Homo sapiens: one gene and its partner. The protein of the gene in region 2 interacts with the protein of the main gene of each other region in a pairwise test. Each region holds a gene or a part of one and is shown on either strand. Other genes may lie near its edges. The genes, in order: ASB15 and CCDC13.

Evidence for each region.
Region 1: the proteins of CCDC13 (region 2) and ASB15 interact in binary tests that used the Homo sapiens proteins (3 or more experiments, as listed by UniProt).

The regions. Positions count from the first base shown.
Region 1 is NC_000007.14:123,622,999-123,634,520, reverse strand, and holds part of ASB15 (ankyrin repeat and SOCS box protein 15), read right to left. Parts: exon of another isoform or gene 11,361-11,522; intron 9,953-11,360; coding exon 9,707-9,952; intron 9,626-9,706; exon of another isoform or gene 9,564-9,625; intron 7,412-9,563; coding exon 7,240-7,411; intron 5,658-7,239; coding exon 5,087-5,657; intron 4,556-5,086; coding exon 4,402-4,555; intron 1-4,401.
Region 2 is NC_000003.12:42,740,451-42,751,972, reverse strand, and holds part of CCDC13 (coiled-coil domain-containing protein 13), read left to right. Parts: coding exon 1-37; exon of another isoform or gene 38-106; intron 107-1,457; exon of another isoform or gene 1,458-2,155; intron 2,156-4,599; coding exon 4,600-4,716; intron 4,717-5,945; coding exon 5,946-6,050; intron 6,051-6,814; exon of another isoform or gene 6,815-7,030; intron 7,031-8,906; exon of another isoform or gene 8,907-8,915; coding exon 8,916-9,077; intron 9,078-10,885; exon of another isoform or gene 10,886-10,998; intron 10,999-11,522. UniProt on the Homo sapiens protein: Required for primary cilia formation and promotes the localization of the ciliopathy protein BBS4 to both centriolar satellites and cilia.

The DNA of each region.
Region 1 (11,522 bases), on a different chromosome or scaffold from region 2:
TGCACACGTATATTCATTGCAGCCCTATTTGCAATAGCAAAGACATGGAATCAACCTAAATGCCCATCAAGGATAGACTGGATAAAGAAAGTTTGATACATATACACCATGGAATACTGTGCAGCTATAAAAAGGAATGAGATCATGTCCTTTGCAGGGACATGGATGGATTTGGAAACCATTATCCTCAGCAAACTAATGCAGGAACAGAAAACCAAACACTGCATGTTCTCACTTATAAGTGGGAGCTGAATGATGAGAACACACAGACACATGGAGGGGAACAGCACATACTGGGTGGGGCCTGTCGGGGGGGTGGCTGGGGGAGTCTGAGCATCAGGAAGAATAGCTAATGGATGCTGGACTTAATACCTAGGTGATGGGATGATCTGTGCAGCAAACCACCATGATAAATGTTTACCTGTGTAACAAACCTGCACATTCTGCACATGTACACTTAAACTTAAAATACAAGTTGAAGGAAAAAAAACAGAAAAAAACCCACCAATCGTATATTTAAATAGATTGGCTTCAATTCATTGAAATCATTACCCTTTTTGAAACTTAAATTGTCCCATCTTTGGCCAGTTGGAGCCTCTTCAAGTTAGCCCCTGAATTCTTTTGTCATGAATCATGTAGTCTTTCAGAGTTTCTTTGCTTTCTGGTATGACCAGATGTTCCAGGTTCATCTTATTCATTTCCTTCCCCAGATACAATCATCCATTTCTCAAAAACAAAACAAAACAACCTCCAGCAAAAACCCTGGTTTCTTTTGTTAGGAAATGGCATTTCCAGGCCAAAATCTGGGTCGTAGGAATGCTCATTGCTACTGGGTTCATCATTATTTCTAAGACTTATCTGTAAACAGACGCACGTGCGCGCGCGTGCACACACACACACACACACTCAGCATAATCCACATGCACACAGATGCTTTCAAGATAAAATAGCTTATGAGTTTATATTGTTATTTCTAATTCAAATTCAGGACTACAGGATTTCTCTTTAATCTCTTCTCTATTACATCTGTATTTTCTTTCTGCCACACTGACAATCCTTGGTTTCAAGGATACAAAGAGTAATGGAATTGGAATATTCCTTAATTACTCATTTACTGAATATATCTCTCATCCTCAGCATAACAATATTAATATTATATCACTATCAATATTTTAAGATATTTAAAAATATGTATTCTAATTATTAAATATTATTTATTTTATCTATGTACTAATATTCAAAAATAAATAATTGTGCTGTATCTATTTTATCAGAGCATATAACCATTATGTATTGCATCTTCTCCCTTTTAACTCTCACTTAGTCTTGGCATTCTGTTTAGTGTTAGCCTTGTTTAATACTAGTCCTCATGGTGATATCTCGCTAATCATTTTGGGTTGTCTAAAGGCCATTTCTTAGTGGATCCTTTGGACGTCAGCAAGAGGAACAATATTTCCTGAGTTCTTGCATGCTGACAACAGTTTGCCTACATTGATCATTGGAAGTCAATTTTGCTGTGTAAGCATCCTTGCCTCACATTTTCCTTCCAAGGAGAGTCTTAAATATGTTACTCCATTGTCTTTTGGCATAAAGTATTGTTGATGAAAAGTTTAATAATAATCTATTTTTTTCTCTTATAAGTCACTTGTTCTTTTTGCCTATGTGCCCAAAGGATATAGTATTTTATATATTATAGTTTCAAATCTTTCTTTTTTATTACAAGTTTTTCTTGAAACTTAGTTTTTTGTATTTCTTATGTTCCCTTGATTTGGTTTTCCTTTTCAAGGAATCCTATTATCCATATATTGACTATTCATTGTCTGTCATCAATGTTTTTAGCTGTCTTTCAAATCCTTTTATCTAAGCTACAGGGATGCAAAGGCATAAGAATGATACAATGGACTTTGAGGACTCAGGGGGAAGGGTGGGTCAGGGATAAAAGAGTACACATTGGGTACAGTGTACACTGCTTAGGTGATGGGTGCACCAAAATCTCAGAAATCACCGCCAAACAACTTATCCATATAACCAACACGACCCGTTCCCCCAAAACCTATTGAAATAAACAAATATACATATTTTAAAATCCTTTTATCTATTTCTTCGTTTATATTTGATTTACAATTTTTCTTCCATATCCTCTTTTATATCTCTCAATGTATTGTCAACTGTGTTGCTAGTTCTTGTTTTCATTCTAGTTCAGTCTTCACATTTGACATTAATTTTTTCTAATTTTTATTCCTAAATCTTTCCTCAGTTGTTACCTGATTTCTGAATTTTTCAAATTTTGACTCGTATTGTTCTTTCATATCTGATATTATTTTCCTCATGCTTTTTAGCTCATTTTTGAAATAGAAGGTTTGCATTTTTTAAGTTATGTATTCATTGCCCGTGGGGATATTATTCTGTTCTTCTTTCTATTATTATTATTATTATTATTTTTGAGATGGAGTCTCGCTCTGTCGCCCAGGCTGGAGTGCAGTGGGGCGATCTCGGCTCACTGCAAGCTCCGCCTCCCGGGTTCACGCCATTCTCCTGCCTCAGCCTCCTGAGTAGCTGGGATTACAGGCGCCCGCCAGCACGCCCGGCTAATTTTTTGTATTTTTAGTAGAGACGGGGTTTCACCTTGTTAGCCAGGGTGGTCTCGATCTCCTGACCTCGTGATCCGTTCGCCTCGGCCTCCCAAAGTGCTGAGATTACAGGTGTGAGCCACCGCGCCCTCTCTGTTGCTCATTTTTATTTGCATTTAGTTTTCTTGACTTTTTAGAAGGATGCTTGGTTCCAGATAGCTCTTCTAACTTTGCAGAGCTTCTTACTCTATTATTTTCTTGCAATGACTCAAAATATGGTGGTTAGATCTCTGAGGTTTCCTGGCTCTGTTTGCCACCCCAACTTTTTTGTGGGTCCTTTCTTGTTTCTGTCCTGCTCGATTTTTGATTTTACTCTCAATGCGGGCTTAAGTCCAGGAAGGGAACTTAGAGAAGTGGTTTTCAAGAATGCATAGGGTCTAGACTGTTTTGTAATTTCCCTTAGGCTTAGCTTTTTATTTGTAAAAAATAAGCATGATAATACTTTACAATATTTCATAGCACACTGTACATATACATTTCAGATACCTCACATAAACTTACCATGTAGTAAAAACATAAAAATGTTAATACTTTAGTTTTAAAACTAAATAAATTTATTAAGTAATTTAAGTATTCTAGACACTACCACCTTATATGCATTATTTCTTTAGATTCCCACAACAACTTTATGAGGTTAATACTATCTTACATCTACTTTGCAATGGGAAAACCTAGGCATAAGAAGAATAAGTAACTTGCTCAAAGTCACACAACTAGGATGGCTATCTTGGTCTTTTTATAGGAAATAAAAAAATCCTCCTCCACTTAGAGAAGCAAAAATGGTAACAATAAATTGTTGCTTTTTATCATGAAAACATCAGTCCTGAATTACATATGCATTTTATAATCTAGCAATCCTACTCCTAGGCAAGGCCAGAATTTCATTTCATTCTAGGTCTATCTGACCCCAGAGCTCAATTTCTGGGCTAACAATACTATATTACTCATCAGATTCTCCAAGACTCCTGTTTTAGTTGCTGCAAAGTCTCTTCTATTATAGAACTAATTCCAGGGGAAGGCTGATTCAGGTACATTAAAAATGTCAAATTATTTAAATGTCATATAAAATTCTATAATGCTTCTTTAGGCTTCATGAAATTGATGTCCAACTAGGTTTTGAAAGTTTATTTTTCCAAACTTATATTTTGAAAGTGAAAGCATCTCAAATCTATGATATTTTTCTGGTTTTTATTTGTATTTGCATTATTTAAAAATGTACTTTCATTGAAACTTGTATTATTCATTTTCATGGTAAACTTTCACCTAGAAAAGACAAAATGGCCTGTCTACAAATACTAACCTTTGATGGTAGGACTTTGTCAATAAAGACCCCAGAGAAAGCATGTCAAAAAGAGTAATTCTAATCCCTGCTGTTCATTCATTTACTCCATATTTATTGAAATGTACTACTTACTAGGCACTATGCTAAGCCTTGCAAATATAACAAGAAACAAAGTAGATCTCTACCCACATGGAGCTTGCAGTCTACGTATTGTATGATATTATAGAAGTTAATTTTTAAAATGAATTGTAATCAGAACGTTAATATAGCTGTAGTATTACTCATTATACAATTACAAAGCTGGAAAATATAAAGAAAAATGAAAATATGTATCTTACAACAGAGGAAGTGTTAAGGATGATTTTAAAACCCAGATAATTCTGGAAATACAGTAGAGTAGCATAGGAAAAGTATCAAAGAAGACATTAAGAAATTTCCCCCATATAAGTTCTTAATTTAAAAATTGTAGGCAAAACTTTTGGTTTTTACCTAGTATTTGGCGGATTTCTGGCCATTCTCTCTGTACTTCTAGTGCAGACTTCAGTTTAGCACACAGAGGAACATAATCCATGTAATCTATTAGTACACGAGTAACTCTGCCTACCAAGTGCTTCATCCAAGGAACTGTAATAAACTCACAGAACTGAGAGAATTGATAAAATTTAATTTAGTAGTATTTTTAATATCATATACATAAACACTCAATTGTGTTATGGAAAAATTACTCTGTTTTACTACAGAAAATAAAAGATCTCTCCTTGTAATGAACAAAAATTAAAAATAAATTGTTTGCTTCTCTCTGTGAAACCATCAGCCCTGAAGACTCGCCTGGCTCTGATGTGATTGTAGTCAGCAAAGCATGGAGAAGTCATGCTTCTTCCCATCTGGCCCCAATATTCTACCAAACAGGCAGAAGTGACTAATTACATACATTTTCACATTCTTCTACATTCAGTTTTCAAGTCAAGAAAAAACAAACAACATATTTTTGGGGGAGAGGTTGGGGGGCTAGATTTATGCTTATATCCCTGTATCATTGCATACAAAAATTGAAAAAACAAGAAAAATAGAAAAATTAGAGTTTATTTTTCTTTTCTTGTAACATCCCTAATTGAATGAACATGTATTAAATTAGGATGATAACTCAATATAAAGCAGAAAAGGCATAACTCACCGGGTTATCTTTTATTACACAAGATGTCCATCCTGGCAGCACCTCTTCCTGTATCTCTGACCACACAAATGAATTTCCAAAGATGTCACCATGCATGCAGTCAAAGCACATCTCCACTTGATAGCCATTATTCAGCAATAGCCTCAGCATTACCTCGTCGTTTAGAGCATATTGAATGACACTGGGGAAACGAGTGTCATTCACATGCATAAAATAACAATTGACATTAGCTCCATGGGAGAGAAGCAGCCTGACAATTTCATAATTATTGGCCCTCACTGCAACAAGTAGACAGTTGAGGGGATCTAAGTTTGGGTCTGCACCTGCAGCCAGAAGGACTTCTGTGCAATGAACGTCATTATTAGAAACGCCAAAATACAGCGCAGTCTTCCTCTCATCGTCATAGCTCTGGGAAATGTGGTCAGCAAGTAGAGTGTTGACATCAAAACCATTTTCAATGAGCAGTTCTAGACACTGTGCATTTTGTCCATCTGCTGCTGAGTGAATTGGTGTTAGCCCACTTTTCCGAATTGCATTTTTAGATGTTACTGGGATAAGATATTTCAGTGCACTAAAAGAAAAAAGTCAAATATCTACTTGCCATAAAGAAAATCAAGAAATTAAATAAACTACCGTTCTCACTAGATAAGTGAATGCAAGTTGTATAGTTTCCCTTATTTTCTCTAGATAACTTTATACTGAAACATTTAACCTTTGTCTGCCGAGGTACAACTATTTAGTTTAGTGTAATGTAGCTCAGTTTTGATTTAGCTTTTTGTTCTAAATATTCCTGGGAAACTGCATCTTATATGTTTTTTCCTAGAATTGTAGTTCCTCAAGAACACGCCCCATCTTCCAATTCTCCTCTGAACAATATAATATTTACAGGCAACCAATACTATTTTTAAAAATGTAGAAGAAAAGTAAGCCTTTCTAATGCCACAGAGGAATGCTTCATAATCTTGACCATTAGGATCATGGGGTGATAGGAAGTGACCCTGGATGTCATTCAGTCCAACTGCTTCATTTAACAGAAGAACAATCTGAAGTCTAGAGAGGCAAAAAGATTGTCCAAGGTCACACAGTTAGACGCAGAGCAGGACAAGAATTTGGGCCTTTTCCAATTCTCATGAATTATTCCTCTTTCACTGATTCCTACACAATCTATTTTTTAATATTGACCATGAACACTCTGTCTGCTTCCATATAACTTGCAATTGAATTATTAGCCAAAAGAAGAGTCTTTAGTATTCCATCAACCTTGCATCAGTCCAATTGAGATAACCAGCCACAGTTTATGTTTCTAAGTACATGTGATATAGTTGTGAGTTTCACACTTGACTAACCAGCCAGACATGTATGAGAGTCACAGGCAAGGAGAACCTGATCTCTTGTGTCTACTGTTGTGAATTTATGAACACTGGGAGTAAATCCAGGTAAACTCTAACAACATGTCACTTAGCATCAATTATGCGTCACTGGCCACTTAGCCAATGGCCCACTGAAAACTATAAAGCCCGATTACTTCAAAGTTTTTGAGCTTATGAAATATATTTAATTGCCTAAAACCATCTTCTCATGGTGGGTAGTTTAATATAGGGATCTAGACTTCTACCAATGTGTTAATTATGTACATTTTGTGATTTAAGAATCTATTCAACCGTTCGTATGGAATAAAAAATTATAAACTTATAATGAAACTTTTCTATTCAACAATACATTTGACATTATACTATAATATCCTGGAGATGTTAGGAAATAACTGGAATAACACTGATAGTATTGCTACAAATTTTAATCCTTTGTCAAGGGCAAAATTTTTAGAAACTGTAGCCTTTTGTTAAATACATTTGTAAACAGAAAGGCACTCTTGAGTGGCTTGTGCAGAATTCTCACTTATGCCTTAATTCCTTCTAAAAGAAAATTTCTTTTCATTATAAAAGTACTATAAATTCATTTTTTGGAAGTACAAGAATATCAAAAGGAGGAAAATTAAATAAGTTCTAAATATCTAAATTTGGAGCATCAAAACCTGAAGATTATGCCTATTTCTCCTTGGATTTTGAAAGGTATTACATATAGACTTGTGATTATACTGTATATACAAATTAGCATTTTTAACTCAAATAATTACCCTATAATTTATCACTCACAGATAATGCCCCTCATAGGCAGCTCGGTGTATAGGAAGATGTCCTGCTCGGTTAGGTACATTTCCGCTTCCTCCATATTCCAGCAGGAGGGAAATGCAGTCGGGATTGCCACCTCCTGCTGCCTCAAACAGCACCGACGCCCCATCATCCGCCAAAGCAAGCACATCACCACCTGGCAGTATAAAACGTGGCATAATGATAACTGGATGGTATTGTTTAAACAATCCCCTTAAAAACAGCCTGTTGTGGGGCTGGGCATGGTGGCTCACACCTGTAATCCCAGCACTGGAGGCTGAGGCGGGCGGATCATGAGGTCAGGAGTTCGAGATCAGCCTGGCTAACATGGTGAAACCCTGTCTCAACTAAAAATACAAAAATTAGCTGGGCACGGTGGCGTGCACCTGTAGTCCCAGCTACCCAGGAGTCTGAAGCAGGAGAATCATTTGAACCTGGGAGGTGGAGGTTGTGATGAGCCGAGATCACTCCACTGCACTCCAGAATGGGCAACAGAGTGAGACTCCATCTCAAAAACAAAGAAACAAACAAACAAAAAACCCCCACAAAACCTGTTGTGTTCCTTTCTGGTTAGTACTTAAAAAGTATAGAATTAAGGGCCTCCATGTTTTCTATACTTTCAATAAACAGTCATGCATGCAGCATGGTTTGTTTTATTAAAATCTTTGGGCCAAAAATCATGAGAGAAACTAAGTCAATTTTCATGACAGGCAAATTCTTCTGAAAAAGGCTCATTAGACTTTTTAATTTAAAGACAGTAGTTTCTTATTTTATTTATTTATTTATTTATTTATGTTGACAGAATCTCACTCTGTCGACCAGGCTGGAGTGCGGTGGTGTGATCTCAGCTCACTGCAGCCTCCGCCTCCTGGGTTTAAGCAGTTCTTCTGCCTCAGTCTCCTGAGTAGCTGGGATTGCAGGCATGTGCCACCACAGGGTTTCGCCATGTTGGCCAGGCTGGTCTTGAACTCTAGGCCTTAAGTAATCTACCCACCTTGGCCTTCCAAAATGCTGGGATTACAGGCATGAGCCATGGTGCCCGGCCCCCTCTATTTTAACTTAACAAATACTTACAGTTAATAAAGTATTAACAAATACTTTATTGCCCTCTATGTGCAATCAGTGTGTGTGACCCTAAGAAGAATAAGTGTGACTACTCTAAGGAGCTTAGAGGGGAAATGAAACAAAATATCAGACAGCACAAACTGTATGATATTCCAGTGACACTGACATTAAGACAAGGAGACATGATGTAGGGGACTGTGGCTCTGCTGCTTATGGTGAGAGCTGGGGGCAAGCCGTTTACTTCCGTGCACCTCCATCTCCACATCTGTGAATGATTAATACAGCTTACTTCACAGGGCTTATTTGAAAATTAAACGTGGTTGTATTGGGACACCTCAAAAATGTTAGTCTTTTTCCTACAGGGAATCACTGGGGATCATGCGGTTCTAGAGGTCATTTGCAGATGAGGACGCTGAGGACCAGATATTTAAGGAATAAGGCTAGGGTCTCACAGTGAGTAGTGGCTCAACCAGTTTAGGAGTCAGGTCTCCTTAACTCATGGTTCTGTAGTTGTATAAAACACCTGGAGGGTTTAAGAAAGGGCAGTGTCACAATCTGTTGGAAAGAATTAGGAAAGGATTTAGGGAGGAGGTGTCTCAAGAGATTGACTTTGAATTGTGCTGAAGAGATAAAGGCAAGGACCTGACCCAAACCCTGCAAGGTACGTTTGGGAATACTGCTAGTATATTTTGACTGGAGTGTAGGATACAAGATGGGAGCAGTGAGGGATAAACGTGGTAAAACAATTTGAGATGATGCAATAGGGATTGTTTTTTGGATAGTTGACACTATTGTAGCTGCCCTATAGGGAGAGGAGCCAAGTTGCAGTATGTACTGTGATTCTCTGATGGGAGACTAGAAACCCAGAAAATGGTTAGAAACTATTTGCACTGGTCCAGGGAGAATTGAGGGACCTGATCAGGATGGCAGATGGATTGCAATGAGAGGACAAGAGAAACGCTACAAGAATTTGCAACTGATTGGATTTAGGAAAGCAGGTGATGGAGGAATTAGAGATAAATACGATCTTTCAATCCTGTTGAGAGAAATTATTACATTAGAAGAGTAGAAAAACAGGAGGAATTCAGTTAAGGAGAAGATGAGCATGAGGCCCTGATGGGCCATCTATGTGCAGATTGAACTGTCTCTCGAGAGAGCAATCAGGACTGGGCTTGTAAATTCGTAGGTCACAATGTATAGGGCTTAGCTGAGTTGTAGAATAAGGGTCTACTGAGGGACCAGGTGGGAAAACCTGATGCCAAGTTCCATTCAGCAGAGGAAGAGGAGCTCCCCTAGTTACATTCAGGTGAGGAAGAGTGATGAATGGAGAAAAGGAGAGTTCGAGAGGCAGGACAAAAGTCAGGAAGTGTAACTCCTTTTCACATACCTTTGTGGATTAGATGTTCTAACACGTCACAGTGACCATACTCGGCAGCGACGCCTAGTGGTGTGACTCCAAATCCATCTCTCAGGTGGACATTGCCTCCATGTTTCAGCAGCAGAGCTACGATATCTTTTCGGCCTTGCTTGGCTGCTTCATGCATTGCTGACCATCGCTTGACACAGGGCTGGTCTAGGCTAGTGTTATGTTTGATCAGAGTCGACACCATGTCATAGGAGCCCTTTTTCACAGCTTGAAAATGATTGTTAAAAACAACAGTAAGTATATTAACACAAATACCTTAGGTGGTATTAAACTAATTACTAAATTTAATATTGAAATAGATACTAGCTAGTAACTTTTTTTCTACAAGGAAAATAATGTATTTCTCATATCCCTTCTGTTTCTCATACCCAAGTTTATATTTGTGAAATATAAGTTTACAAGATGACACTACCTTTTCTTTAAGACCTGGAGGAGGGGTAAGAGTTTCACAGAAAATAACACGTATCACTAGGATAGGATGCTGTGTGCCCTCTTTCCAAATTTTAATTTCTTCACCAACAAAATGGAAATAACACTTGTTGTTGGGTTGTACAAATTAAATAATGTATGTAAAATTCTCAGTGTAGTACCTAGTACATAACAGGAGCTCAGTAACTGGCTATTATTATTATATCACTCCTAGGACCCAGGAACCTCATATGTAAATCATGTTCATCAGGTTTCCCCTATAGAAACAGGGTTTTTTCCCCTTGCCGCAAAAGATAGCAGCAAGTATTGAATGAACTTCTCTTTCTTATATATGTATTTTCTTTCCTTTCTCTTTCTTTCTTTCTTTCTTTCTTTCTTTCTTTCTTTCTTTCTTTCTTTCTTTCTTTCTTTCTTTTCTTTCTTTCTTCCTTCCTTCCTTCCTTCCATTCTTTCTTTCTTCTTTTCTTTTCTTTTTTTTTTTTTGAGACAGAGTCTCGCTCTGTCGCTCAGGCTGGAGTGCGATGGCACAATCTCAGCTCACTGCAACCTCCACCTCCTGGGTTCAAGCAATTCTCCTGCCTCAGCCTCCTGAGTAGCTGGAATTACAGGCGCATACCACCAAGTCTGGCTAATTTTTGTATTTTTAGTAGAGACAGGGTTTCACCGTGTTGGTCAGGCTGGTCTCAAACTCCTGACCTCGTGATCTGCCCGCCTTGGCCTCCTAAAGTGCTTGGATTACAGGTGTGAGCTACCACGCCCGGCCCTCTTTCTTACATTTTTAATGGGTGATTATCAATTAGATTGTTTAGAATCTACATAGGCCAACTGTTCCCAGTGAGTGAAGTAAGTGACCGTTAATGTAGTACAATTAAGGAGGTTCACCAAATCAGTTGTCCCTCTCCCTCTCTGCTCATCTCTAATGGCTGAAATTATACTGTTACAAGGTTTTCCCCTTTTGGATTATTAAGAGATTGTCCCCATTTAGATGTATACACTTCTAAAAATGTAACTTTTTTTTCCTTTTAAGTAAAATCTTATTAAAATACAGATTAGGATGAGTGCTGCCCCTACAAATGGAGATGTACACAGTTACATTCACTCATTCATTCATTCACTCACTCATTTCCTATTCAGTTAATACGGCTAGCTCCACTAAAGGCTCTGTGTTATGCACTGTGGACAACAGGAAGAAGAGACAGATTTGGATCTCACTCGTAGAGTTTATGGCCTAGAGAAGAAGCCTATGCTGCCTTCTATTTAAAGAGAGACTCAAAGTCTGGGCCTGTACTGGGAAACGTAGAAGAAGATATGAGGCCACATGGAACATTCTGGGGTAACCAGGAGGCAG
Region 2 (11,522 bases):
CAAGCCACCGAGGGCCCAGATGGGAGACAGAGCATTGGTATGAATTCTCTTCTGTGCTGGGAAGTCTGTGAGGCAGCCATGGGCCTGGGCCTCCCCTCCTCCACAGGTGTGTAGGTACCTCTACCCGAGGTCCACCCCCAACCCCCAACCCCGCTGCCGAGCCAGGTGCCCATTGTCTACCATTGCTGCATCCTCAGAGCAGACATCAGAGAACAGTACCGAGTGTATGGCCTGAGGCCAAGAATGTCGTGTCGGAAGCTATGGAGGGTGTAGCTCCAACTCTGTCTCCAGAAAGGAAGGCTGGGAGGAGCCTGAGAACCCTGGAACACTAGAGCCTGAGGATCAAGAGGGAAGGCCTGGTCCAACTGACCTCCCACTGTCAGCCCAGCCATCTCCTGTACAGCATCCTCACTGGGGACACATCCAGACTCCACCTTACTCCAGGGACAGGGAGCTCACTACTGCCCAGTGGAATCCTGTTCTTTATGGGGCAGTTCATATTATGAACACTTTCCCTTTCGTGGGGCTCCAAATCTACAGAGTAAAAGTGGCTATTGGAAATGGGGACTTATTCCCCAGAGCCCATTTTACTAAACCAGTGACAGTTCATGAAACTCAAGAGGTGGGAATTGCAGCTCCATGAAAGGAAGTCAGTCTGACCTAGTGGGTTGGTTTATCCCCAAATCAGATAGTAAATATCATCAGAGTCTAACATTCCAGGAGGCTTCACCAAGGGTTTTCTTGGGAAGCCAGGCCAGTTGGTGAGAGAGGCAGCCAAGCCCCGGGACTCCCAATTTGGTGCTTGTTTTCTAGCCCCATCTTCCCTGCTGCCTGCACCTCAGGATCAGACTGCCCTGTGCCTTCCTTGAGGATAATTCAGTCCTCGCTGTGCAGTGATGGGCCCCTCAGGTTCCGGCGGGGATGGGCCCTCAGGTTCCGAGGTGAATGTGCCTCCTCAAGAGTAGTCTTGTGTAAACCTGTCTCATTGCTGGGGAAGTAGAAGAGGGGCTCTGCCCTCTACAGGGGCTGAGTATTCTTCAGGGCCTTTCCTGGCTTCAGGGGACACTGCTAAGCTGCCCCTGGTTTATTCCACGCATTGAGCACCTCCACATTCCGAACTAGGGCTGCCCTGGATAGGAAACTGCTTGTTCAGCCTGATGGGATTTTCTAAGCCCTGTGGCACAGAGAATCAAAAATAGAGCCTTGACCGGGTGAGGTGGCTCATGCCCGTAATCCCAGCACTTTGGGAGGCTGAGGCTGATGGATCACTTGAGGCCAGGAGTTCGAGACCAGCCTGGCCAACATGGTGAAACACCATCTCTAGTAAAAATACAACAATTAGCCAGGCATGGTGGCGAACGCCTGTAATCCCAGCTACTCAGGAGGCTGAGGCATGAGAATCGCTTGAACCTGGGAGGCAGAGGTTGCAGTGAGCTGAGATAGCGCCACTGCACTCCAGCCTGGGTGACAGAGTGAGACTGTGTCTCAAAACAAACAAACAAACAACTACAACAACCACCAAAAAAACAGAGGCTCTGTCTATGGAGAATCCCAGAGGAGGAATGAGAAGTCATTCGAAGGCAGGATGTGGACAGGGCCTTCAGAGATGGCCCCGGTGCTCTAAGCTCACAGGGGAGTCCACCCTCCATTAAGGTTGCAGCTGGAAGGTGGGACGGAGGAGGGCGTCCCTGAGCTGGCCTTACTGGAGAAGGAAGATGGGGAAGGTGAACTGAGTGTCAGCTGGATAACATTTGACTGCAGCCCAGAGCTCACACGGGAGAAAAGGGGAACGAAAGCCAAAAAAGCTGGGGTGAAGTCACCCATAGAGGGAGCCCTTGAATGGCAGCTGGAGCAGGAGTTTTGACTTTATTCTGTGGCCACAGGGAGCCTGGGAGGTTCCAGGTTCTGAGAGAAGAGTGTGTGATGGGCCGCAGGTCTCAATTCATCAGCACCACGTGTTCTCCCTGGCATCTCCTGATCAGAGCGAGAGCAAAAGCAATGTTTCCCCTCATAGGCTGCTCAGGGCGGCCCAAGCCCGAGCCACACTCCAGAGGCCTGCAGGCTCAATCCACATTCCAACCCTAGGCCTCCAAAGCACATTCCAGAGTGGAGCTGAACACCCTTCCCTCTGCTTGGGGCTTCAGGAGGCCGTGATGTGAGTAGCGTTGGCATCATCTGCTCCCCATGTACTGCGCTTTAGTTATTTTCTCAAAGAAAACAGCCTCGGGTAGGGGAGGGAGCGTACCCATACCCAGGTCCCCCACAAAGCCTGTGGAATTTCACTCTGGGAAGAAAGAACTCTGAAATGGCTTAGAGGTAGGATTAGCTCAACTGCCTAAGCTAGGAGGACGGGGCCTGATCCAGCCCTCTCCAGAACACCATCTAGCCCTCAGCCCACTTGTCAGCTGCCCACTCAAGCCAGGCTAGGCCTGCCAGCATTGCCCTCCATCAGGACCTGCCCCAGACAGCACCCTTGACATGCGTTGTCCTAGCAACCCTCTCAGGTTCCCTGGAGATTGGCATTACATATCCCCATTTTACAGATGAGAAAATGAGGCTTGGACAGGGCATCACTGCCCAGGTTCTAGAGCCAGATCCAATCTGTATGCTTTTTCCATGCTCTGAGCAGATCAAAGAGATGCTGCAGGGTCACTGCAGCCATATGGAAGCACATGTACTCCCACAGCTCTCAGCACCCCCACTGTCAGGGCCACTGGGGCTCATGGCGCTAGAGATCTGACAGGCAGGGCGGGGCGTGGCAGGGGGTGGAGGGGTGTTGCTTCCCAACCCAGGGCAGATTCAAAGCCACACATTCAACAGGAGAAGAGGCAGGCACCCAACAGAGTATGCAGGGATGGCAGGCGGCCAGACAGGAGGAAGAACACAGAAGAAAATATACTTTAAAAAAAAGGATGGCCGGGCACGGTGGCTCACATCTGTAATCCCAGCACTTTGGGAGGCCAAGGCAGGTGGATCACCTGAGGTCTGGAGTTCAAGACCAGCCTGGCTAACATGGTGAAACCCCATCTCTACTAAAAAATATACAAAAATTAGCCAGGCATGGTGGTGGGCACCTGTAATCCCAGCTACTCGGGAGGCTGAGGCAGGAGAATCGCTTCAACCCGGGGGGGCGGAGGTTGCAGTGAGCTGAGATTATGTTTCATATAAGTTCCGAGTTGGCACATTCTGTTCACGTTGGCTGTTCTCTTTAGCCTGATGGTGGTGCTCTGAGGAAGCGGAGCAGGAAAGTATTTGTATACTCATTCCATAGATGAGGACACTGGATGAGGCCAGAGTTTCTGGACCAGGTGTTCATGTCTAGTTTCTTTGGCCAGTGGTTTTCAGCTGGGCTGCCCAGAGCCTCTGGGGTCCATGGAACTTCCCGGACCCAGTATACTTGGATCTGTCTTTCACACTAGCATTCAGAGGAGATTTTGTTTGTGCCTGCTAGAGAAAGGTCAGAAAGCCACTGTAGTACCAGCCCTGCTTCCTGAAGTTCAGCTGCTTTGCCCTGTTGGGGCAGCAGCAGAGGGCCTCAGCGTCATTGCCTGATGGGATGCTCAGCCTGACAACCAACGTTCCTGTGGCCACAATGCCCAGCATTAACAGCAGCTTAAATTGGAAGAGTCAGCCAGGGCAGGGGAAGGACAAGTATTCTTTCTCATCCCACCTGTGTCACCCCAACCAGCTGTATGCCTGAAGGCAAATTACCTCCCCTCTCTGGGCCTTATTTTCATCATTATGGAAGGGGTTTAAATGGGCTGACCTTGAAGGTCCCTTTGTCAAATATCTATGAGTCACAGGAGTGTCTATTGAAGACAGAGAAGTAGTCAGCCCATTTAAGAAAAATTTCCATCCAGATAGTTTAAATAAAACATTGGGTTAAAAAAAAAAAAGACATTGCTAAGAGTTTCAGCAGGCAGTTTTCATGGTTGCTGTAGTTCTTCAAGCCACAGAGATGAGCATTTGGAAATTAAAATGGGTCCTTATTTCTATTCAGTGGTCACTGCTAGGAAAGAGAGCCCAAGGCCCCTCAGCTGTCAAAAGACCAAGGCCCAAGCTGACGATTCTGGGAGAGGCAGATCCTGAATTAGGATGCCATGGCTCTCCTGCCACGCTGGGCTTGCCTTCGGGGAATAACGTGGTTTCCTCTTTATTCTGAGTGAAGATGGATTAGCTGTGATGCCAGTCTCTGAGCACAGCAGTGGGTCCACACCCAGGAAGTGTCTGGGAGGCGTGGAGCCTGCCGCTTCCTCCAGATGCTTCACCTCTAGGGTAAGGCATACACCCACATGTGTGTGTGCAACACTCTGCAAAAAGCTCAGTCCCAAAGTTAAGCTGCCAGGATTCAAATCCAGGTTCCACCTTTATTAACCAGGTAGCTCAAGTAGAGGACTTACCTTCCACCACCCTCCATTTTGCATCTATAAGGGGCTTACAAGAGAACCTACCTCACAGGGGTTTATGAGGATTAAATGAGTTCTTCCATGTCAAACACTTAGCACAGTGCCTGGCACAGACTTGGATAAATGGGGGCTATGATTACTATTCCCATGTAGGCAATAAATGACTACTTTCTCTCCTGTCCTTCCCAACCAGCTGGAGACCCCAGAGGTGAAGGCCCTGCAGGACAGGCTGGTGGCCACCAACTTGAAGATGAGTGACCTCCGAAACCAGATCCAGTCTGTGAAGCAGGAGCTGCGGATGGCACAGAAGGTCTTTCAGAGCCAGGGCTTGGGGCTTCTTGTGTGGCTGGGGCTGGACTTGGGAAGAGCACGGCTGGCACAGTGGATTCCTTTCTGGAGCCATGAGTGCTCAGTCCCTTGAGCACACTGCTTGCTCTGGGTCAGGCTCCAGTTCCAGTCCTTCCTCCCACCAGCCCTTGGTCCATAACCATTTGGTGGGCAGAGTCGCTGGCTACCTGAGCCTGCCACCCCCACCCCCGCAGCATACCTGCCCTTGTGGTGCCTGCCCAGCTCTAGACTGAGGAGGACAGCACTGTCCACCCAGGGAGAGTCCATTAAGCCTTCCCTGCACTACTTGTGCCCCAGTAGATCCTGGGTCTCCCCTTAATGTCACCCTTACTTAACTTGAAAGCCTGCCAACACCTGCCTTCTTCTCTGCTATCTGTAACAGAAAATGAATAGGTTACTTGTGTATTAAAGGACCCTTTCAAAGGAAAATGCTCAGACTTGGGACACAGGCCCAGCTGGTTCGTTATTTATTTTTATTTACATAGCGAATTCTCTGGCATTTGTCTTCCCTGCTGGAACCACTCAGACTGGCCAAGATTTCCAAAACAGTGTTCTATTGTGGAAACAAGTGCCAGAGACTTGGTACGCTGGATCGGGTTTCTGTGACAGGCTTCAGAGGGGCCCAGGTCACAAGCTGGAGCGTATTGTTTCTGCCTCAAAGCCTTGAGGTTGGGCCTGAGTGCTGCACTTCAACAACCGCAAAGCTGGGTCCTTCTTGGACCACAGCACCCCAACTGACATTCAGTAGCCCACCTTTTGCTGCACTCAGAGGTCCACTTGTCCGTGGGTTTTCACAAAGGCTAGGGTCCTGTGGTGATGTACTTCCTATAGCCAGAATTAGCTCAGCACTAGGTGACAGGTGAGTGGGTTAAGGAAGCAGGAGTTGGTCAGCTTTGTGGTTCAGTCATCCCAGAATATGTCAAGAGCAAGGGGCCCTATCTGGGCATTGCTGGCAGTTTCTTGGCTGCTCTAAGCATTGCCAAGAAATGCCAGGGATGATGGGTTTACTACTTTCCCAGGGAGAGCTGCCCTTGGGACATGGAAAACTGACCTTTGAGGGCTATGCTCTGAGATGGGAAGAAGATCGTGTAGGTGAAGACTGCTTCTGAATATGCTTCTAAATACGTAGCAGCATCAGGGTCTGGTGGAGCCCTCTCTTTTGGCCACATTGAAGGCCCTGCCTTATTTCAGGTTTTGGCCAGAGAGGTTGGGGAAGACATCAACGTTCAGCAGCTCCTATCTTCGCCAGGGACCTGGAGGGGTCGGGCTCAACAAATTCTTGTTTTGCAGAGCAAGGTGAGTGAGTCATCAGACTTCTCCTGGCCTGAACAAAGGATTTAAAACACCCCAGAAAGAGCTGCCCTGACCCCCTTAGAGACCTAAGCACACAGTACCCAAAAAAGGCCTTTAGGTCTCACAGTGCACTCGTGCGGGGTTGTTGTTTTACCTTCTCGCCAACCAGCCTGATTTTAATTTGTTATTTAATGAACAAGCTCTTATATAACACTTAGCACATGCCAGGCACTGGAGCTTAACAAATGCCAACGCCTTTGGTTTGATTTATTTTACTCCAGGCATCTTTTTTTTTTCTTAGTTTATGTAGATTTGCGTGACTGTTGTAATTGTAAGCTTTTTCCAGTTTTGTCCAGATGCTTGTAGTCTTTTGAAAGTTTAATTACCCAATAAAAATTTAGCCTTGTCTCCCTCTTTATTGTCTGAATATTTTGGAGCATACCAAAAGCAGCTAACAGCAGGGGCTCTGGAGCCACACTGCTCAGATTCAAATCCCAGCTCTCCACTCACCAGCTGTGTGACCTTAAGCAAGTTCCTTTAGCTCTGTGCCTCAGTTTCCTCATCTGTATAATGGGGATAATAACGATGCCTACCCCACAGGATTGTTGGGAGAATTGAGTCAATACTTGTAAAATGCTCAGCACAGGGCCTGGCATGGAGGAAGCACTGTATAAAAGTTAGGTGTGGTTCTTTTCCCTTTGTCCCTTCAAACTGAGAAACATGTGAGAAGGTGTATGACTTCCACCATTTGCCAAGCATATCACCCTTGTTCCCAGGGACTTCGAGGGTCACAGTGGCTTTTATCTTCAGTGTCTCCCATGGGATCCTTGAAGCCAATATAAAGGGGGAAAAACTCCAAGAAGCTAATAGATGATAGTGCATGGCCTTGGGGTTCAAGAGACCTGAGTTTACGTTTGGCCACCGGTCTGCCAACTCTGACCTTGGGCAAACCCCTTCATCTTCCTATGTCTTCATCTTCACACCTGTGAAATGGGGTAACATAAAATAACATTTGTAAAGCACCTAGGACAGTGCCTGACCATAATAAGCACAAAACAACTTACTTCTTATTGTCATTAAGTTACATGTCAAATTCTTTTTTTTTTTTTTTTTTTTTTTTTGAGACGGAGTCTCGCTCTATCACCCAGGCTGGAGTGCAGTGGTGCGATCTCGGCTCACTGCAAGCTCCGCCTCCCGGGTTCACGCCATTCTCCTGCCTCAGCCTCCTGAGTAGCTGAGACTACATTTGCCCGCCACCACGCCCGGCTAATTTTTTGTATTTTTAGTAGAGACGAGGTTTCACTGTGTTAGCCAGGATGGTCTCGATCTCCTGACCTCGTGATCCGCCCACCTCGGCTTGCCAAAGTGCTGGGATTACAGGCATGAGCCACCACGCCCGGCCCTGTATGTCAAATTCTTAAAGGTAACAGTATTCTTTAATGATTAAATGGAATTGCCTCACAGCGCCACACGAGGGCACTGGTGGGTGCCTTCAAAGCTGTGCTCCTGCCCTTTGCCAGGGAGCCTAGCGAATTGTGCTTCCTTTCCTGGCTCAAGTTTACCAACATTGTTTTGTCATTTGGTTGTGTTGATAGGGAAACCAGGGTCAGAAGGACCCTAGGAGTTGTCTGCTTCTACCCTAGCGTTATAAGGGTGATAAGGGCATTGTTCTGTGGGATGACATCTACCTGCCACTTGCTGAAGGCCCACATGTGCCAGGCTGTGTTGACAGCTTCACCTAGACCATCTTGGGATTTTGCAAAGTTACCTAATCCTAAAAATAACCTGTAGCATTTAAAATGCAGATTCCATGTCCCTTCCGCTAGAACTGTAGTTTGTTGATCTGGAGTAAGCACCAAGATTTCAGTCCAAGAAGAACCTCAGAGGATTCCCAGGCTCAGACAACTTCACAATACTGAATCCTCATAACAGTGTTACGCAGGGCAGTGTTACTCTTAGGCCCATCTTACAGATGAGGGAACTGAGATTCAGAGAGTTACCTGTGCGCAGTCACACAATCTGTGAGGCTTTGAGGCAGTCTGTTTCCAAACCCTGCCTTCCCCTCTTCAGTATCTCCTGTAAGTGACTGCCATCTTCCGAGAAGCCCACCCAGTCTTAGGTGGTCTGTCTGTTAGAAAGTTCCTCCTTGCCCAGCACTTTGGGAGGCTGAGGTGGGCAGATCTCTCGAGCCCAGGAGTTCAAGTTCAAGACCAGCCTGGGCAACATGGTGAAACCCCGTCTCTACCAAATTTTATATATATATATATTTATATTTATATATTTATGTGTGTGTGTGTATATGTGTATATATATATGTGTGTGTGTATATATATATATAAAATTATCCAGGCACAGTTGCCTGTGCCTGTGGTCCCAGCTGCTTAGGAGGCTGAGCTGGGAGGATTGCTTGAGCCCGGGAGGCAGAGGTTACAGTGAGCCATGATTGCACCACTGCACTCCAGTCGGGGCAACAGAGCAAGACCCTGTCTCTAAAATAAATAAATAAATAAATAAATAAATAAATAAATAAATAAATAAATATTCTTTCTTGAACTGAGACCTGCCATCCTATCCATCCCTGGTTCCTGGGGCCATAGGTCTGCTTTCCAGCCTCAAACAGCCCCTCAGAGATAGGGTGATTTTTCTCATTCACCATTTTTCTAAGCTGAACTTTCCTGGTGTCTTCCAATGTGTTGCTCAAGATGCCAGCTCAGATTGTCCCCCACCCCTAGTCCTCCTCAGATGGGGCTACCACAGCCATCTAGAGAGGTGGTTCCATCTTCAGTCTGTGGGGTCTCCTATCACACTTCTGAGTAGAAGAGGCTGGCAGAAGACCCATTGTGGAACGACGAGTTTTACCATCCTCAGGTTCAAGAGCTTGAGAAGCAATTGGGCCAGGCCCGGAGCCAGTCTGCGGGAACAGCCAGTGATGAGTTGTCTGTCTATCCAGACCCAAGGAAGCTGTCGGCACAGGAGAAAAACCTGCTGAGGATCCGCAGCCTGGAAAGGGAAAAACAGGAAGGCTTGGAGGTAACGCGTGCCTGAGGAGGTCAGCTGGGCATGTGGGAACGAGAGATCATGATGGTGCCTGCAAGGGCTCTGAGGCACATGTGGTCAGAAGTCTGAGCCACCCCTTCTAGGCAGGAGACACCTGGGGACCTGGGTCACCTCTGCATGTTCCTCATGTCCTGTCAAACCAACTTGAGCTGCCTGACTGGGACCTCACTGTGAGCCCATTTAATGAACTTTTCGTGGCCCCATCCTGGCTGTTTTGGAGGTGCTATACCTGAAATTCTCATTGTAAAAGGGAGAGGGGGAGGGTCATGGCCCCAGAAGTATGATAGGGTTAGATGGGGCTTAAAGGGGGAAAGTTCCAGGCTGATGAAAGAGGTAGGCAGGCTGGACTCAACACCAGGGGCCGCATCTCACTGGCTGCGTTGGGAGTGTCAGAACTCTAACTCTACCAGGTTTAAGCAACAAAGGGAAGTCATTGGCCCATGTAAACGAACAATCCAGAGGTGGCCTAGCTTCAGGTGCAGATCGGGGCCTTGCTCTCAGCACCTTCTCCTGGGTTGGCTTCACTCTCTTCCACAAGGACCCTGGGTAGTCCCAGCTTCTCTCCTCCAATGCAGCCTCTACAGACAAAGGGTTTCTCTTTCCCAATAGTTCCAACAAAGTCCCAGAATTGAGTGTCTTTGGTCTAGCCTGGGTTATGTGACCATCCTTGAGCCCATCACTGTAGCCAAGAGTACAGGGTGTTTTGATTGGTCAAGCTTCAGACACCTGCCCCAAGGTTTGAGGGGATGAGTTAGCCTCCCCAAACTTGCAATGAGAGTAGGGAGTAGGGGCCACTTTAAAGAAGGTAACAGAAGCAGCATGAAGAGGTGCAGGCAGGCCATACAACAGGCCCACGTAGTGGCCCTGGCAGTGAGCTACCTAACAGTGAGGACTTGCCTTTTCATCTGGAGACTTTTGCCTGTGAGCACCAACGCTGGGTTAGGCCCTGTGTTAGGAATGCTGTAACCATGACCACATTGCACCTCCCAGCGCTGTAGACCATCAGCTGTGAGGAGGGAAACAGTGAGACCACAGAAGTGGACAGGGCCTGCTGGGCTTTGTATGCCAGCCAGGACTTTTGGCCTGTATCTTGAAGGCTGTGGAGAACCACCAAACGGTTTTTGTTTTTTTTTAGATAGAGTCTCGCTCTGTTGCCCAGGCTGGAGTGCAATGGTGTGATCTTGGCTTACTGCAACCTCCGCCTCCGGGGTTCAAGTGATTCTCCTGCCTCAGCCTCCCAAGTAGCTGGGATTACAGGCACCTGCCACCATGCCCGGCTAATTTTTATATATTTAGTAGAGACAGGGTTTCACTGTGTTGGTCAGGCTGGTCTCAAATTCCTAACGTCAGGTGATCCACCTGCCTCGGCCTCACAAAGTGCTGGGATTACAGGTGTGAGCCATTCGCCGAGCCCACGACAGGGTTTTAATTTGTGGAGGGAGGTGGTCAGCTGTGCATTTTGGAAAGGTCACATGGTTGGAGCAAGAGGAGGAATGGGTTGGAAGAGGAATGGAAGGCAGAATAGTAATCCTGGAGACATGACCAAAGATCTTTGCCAAGATAGTGGACTGTCATGGAAGGGCCAGACACCTGGGACAGTGAGGACAGACTTTCTAGGGCTCAAGGACTGATTGGACTTGGAAGAGAGATGAGGAGGAAGAGTTATAAAGGACTTCTAGGGAGTATAGTGGGTGGGTAAGGGAGACAGGGTGGGTTCAAGAAGAGAAAGGGAGTTGAGATTTGGAAATGCTGGGTTTGAAATGCACCTAGCTTGAACTTACATGTTAGTGCAGAACAGATTATGTTGAACAGTTGGGCTGACCATAAGCTGCAATAGCGGGTGGAAGGAAACAGCTTCCTGCATGCATTCCCTCTGGCAGGCACCCATAAGAGCCTGGAGTGTGTAGGCAGGAGAGCAACAGGTGAGTAATGGCTGCCTCCCTGCAAAGGGCTTGTGTCCTATAGATTCATGTTTTACTTGTTTTGCATTTCTATAATTCACTTCATCAAGGATATGAAAATACTTTTCCAGCAACAATTCACCCTCAGGATCAAGCAGGTGATGTCACCCACTGCCCAAGCTCCTCCCCAATGTCTCCATCTTGTCTTTATGGGTTTGCCTAATCTAACCTCTGCCCCTTCACTCACTGTGCTCCAGCCACACACCTTCTACCCCAGGGCCTTTGCTCTTCCCTTCATCTCCTTCAGTCTCTGCTCAGATGCCACCTTTTCAGAAAGGCCTTACCTGACCATATCCTTCTCGCTATTCCTGTTTCCTACTTTCAAATTAGCATTTGTCACTATTTGACATTATCTGTCTCCTCCATTAGGATTATCAGCTCCTTGAGGACAAGGACTGTTTTGCTTTTTGCTGTCCCCCAGCATCTATAACAATACTAAGCCCATAGTAGGCCCTCA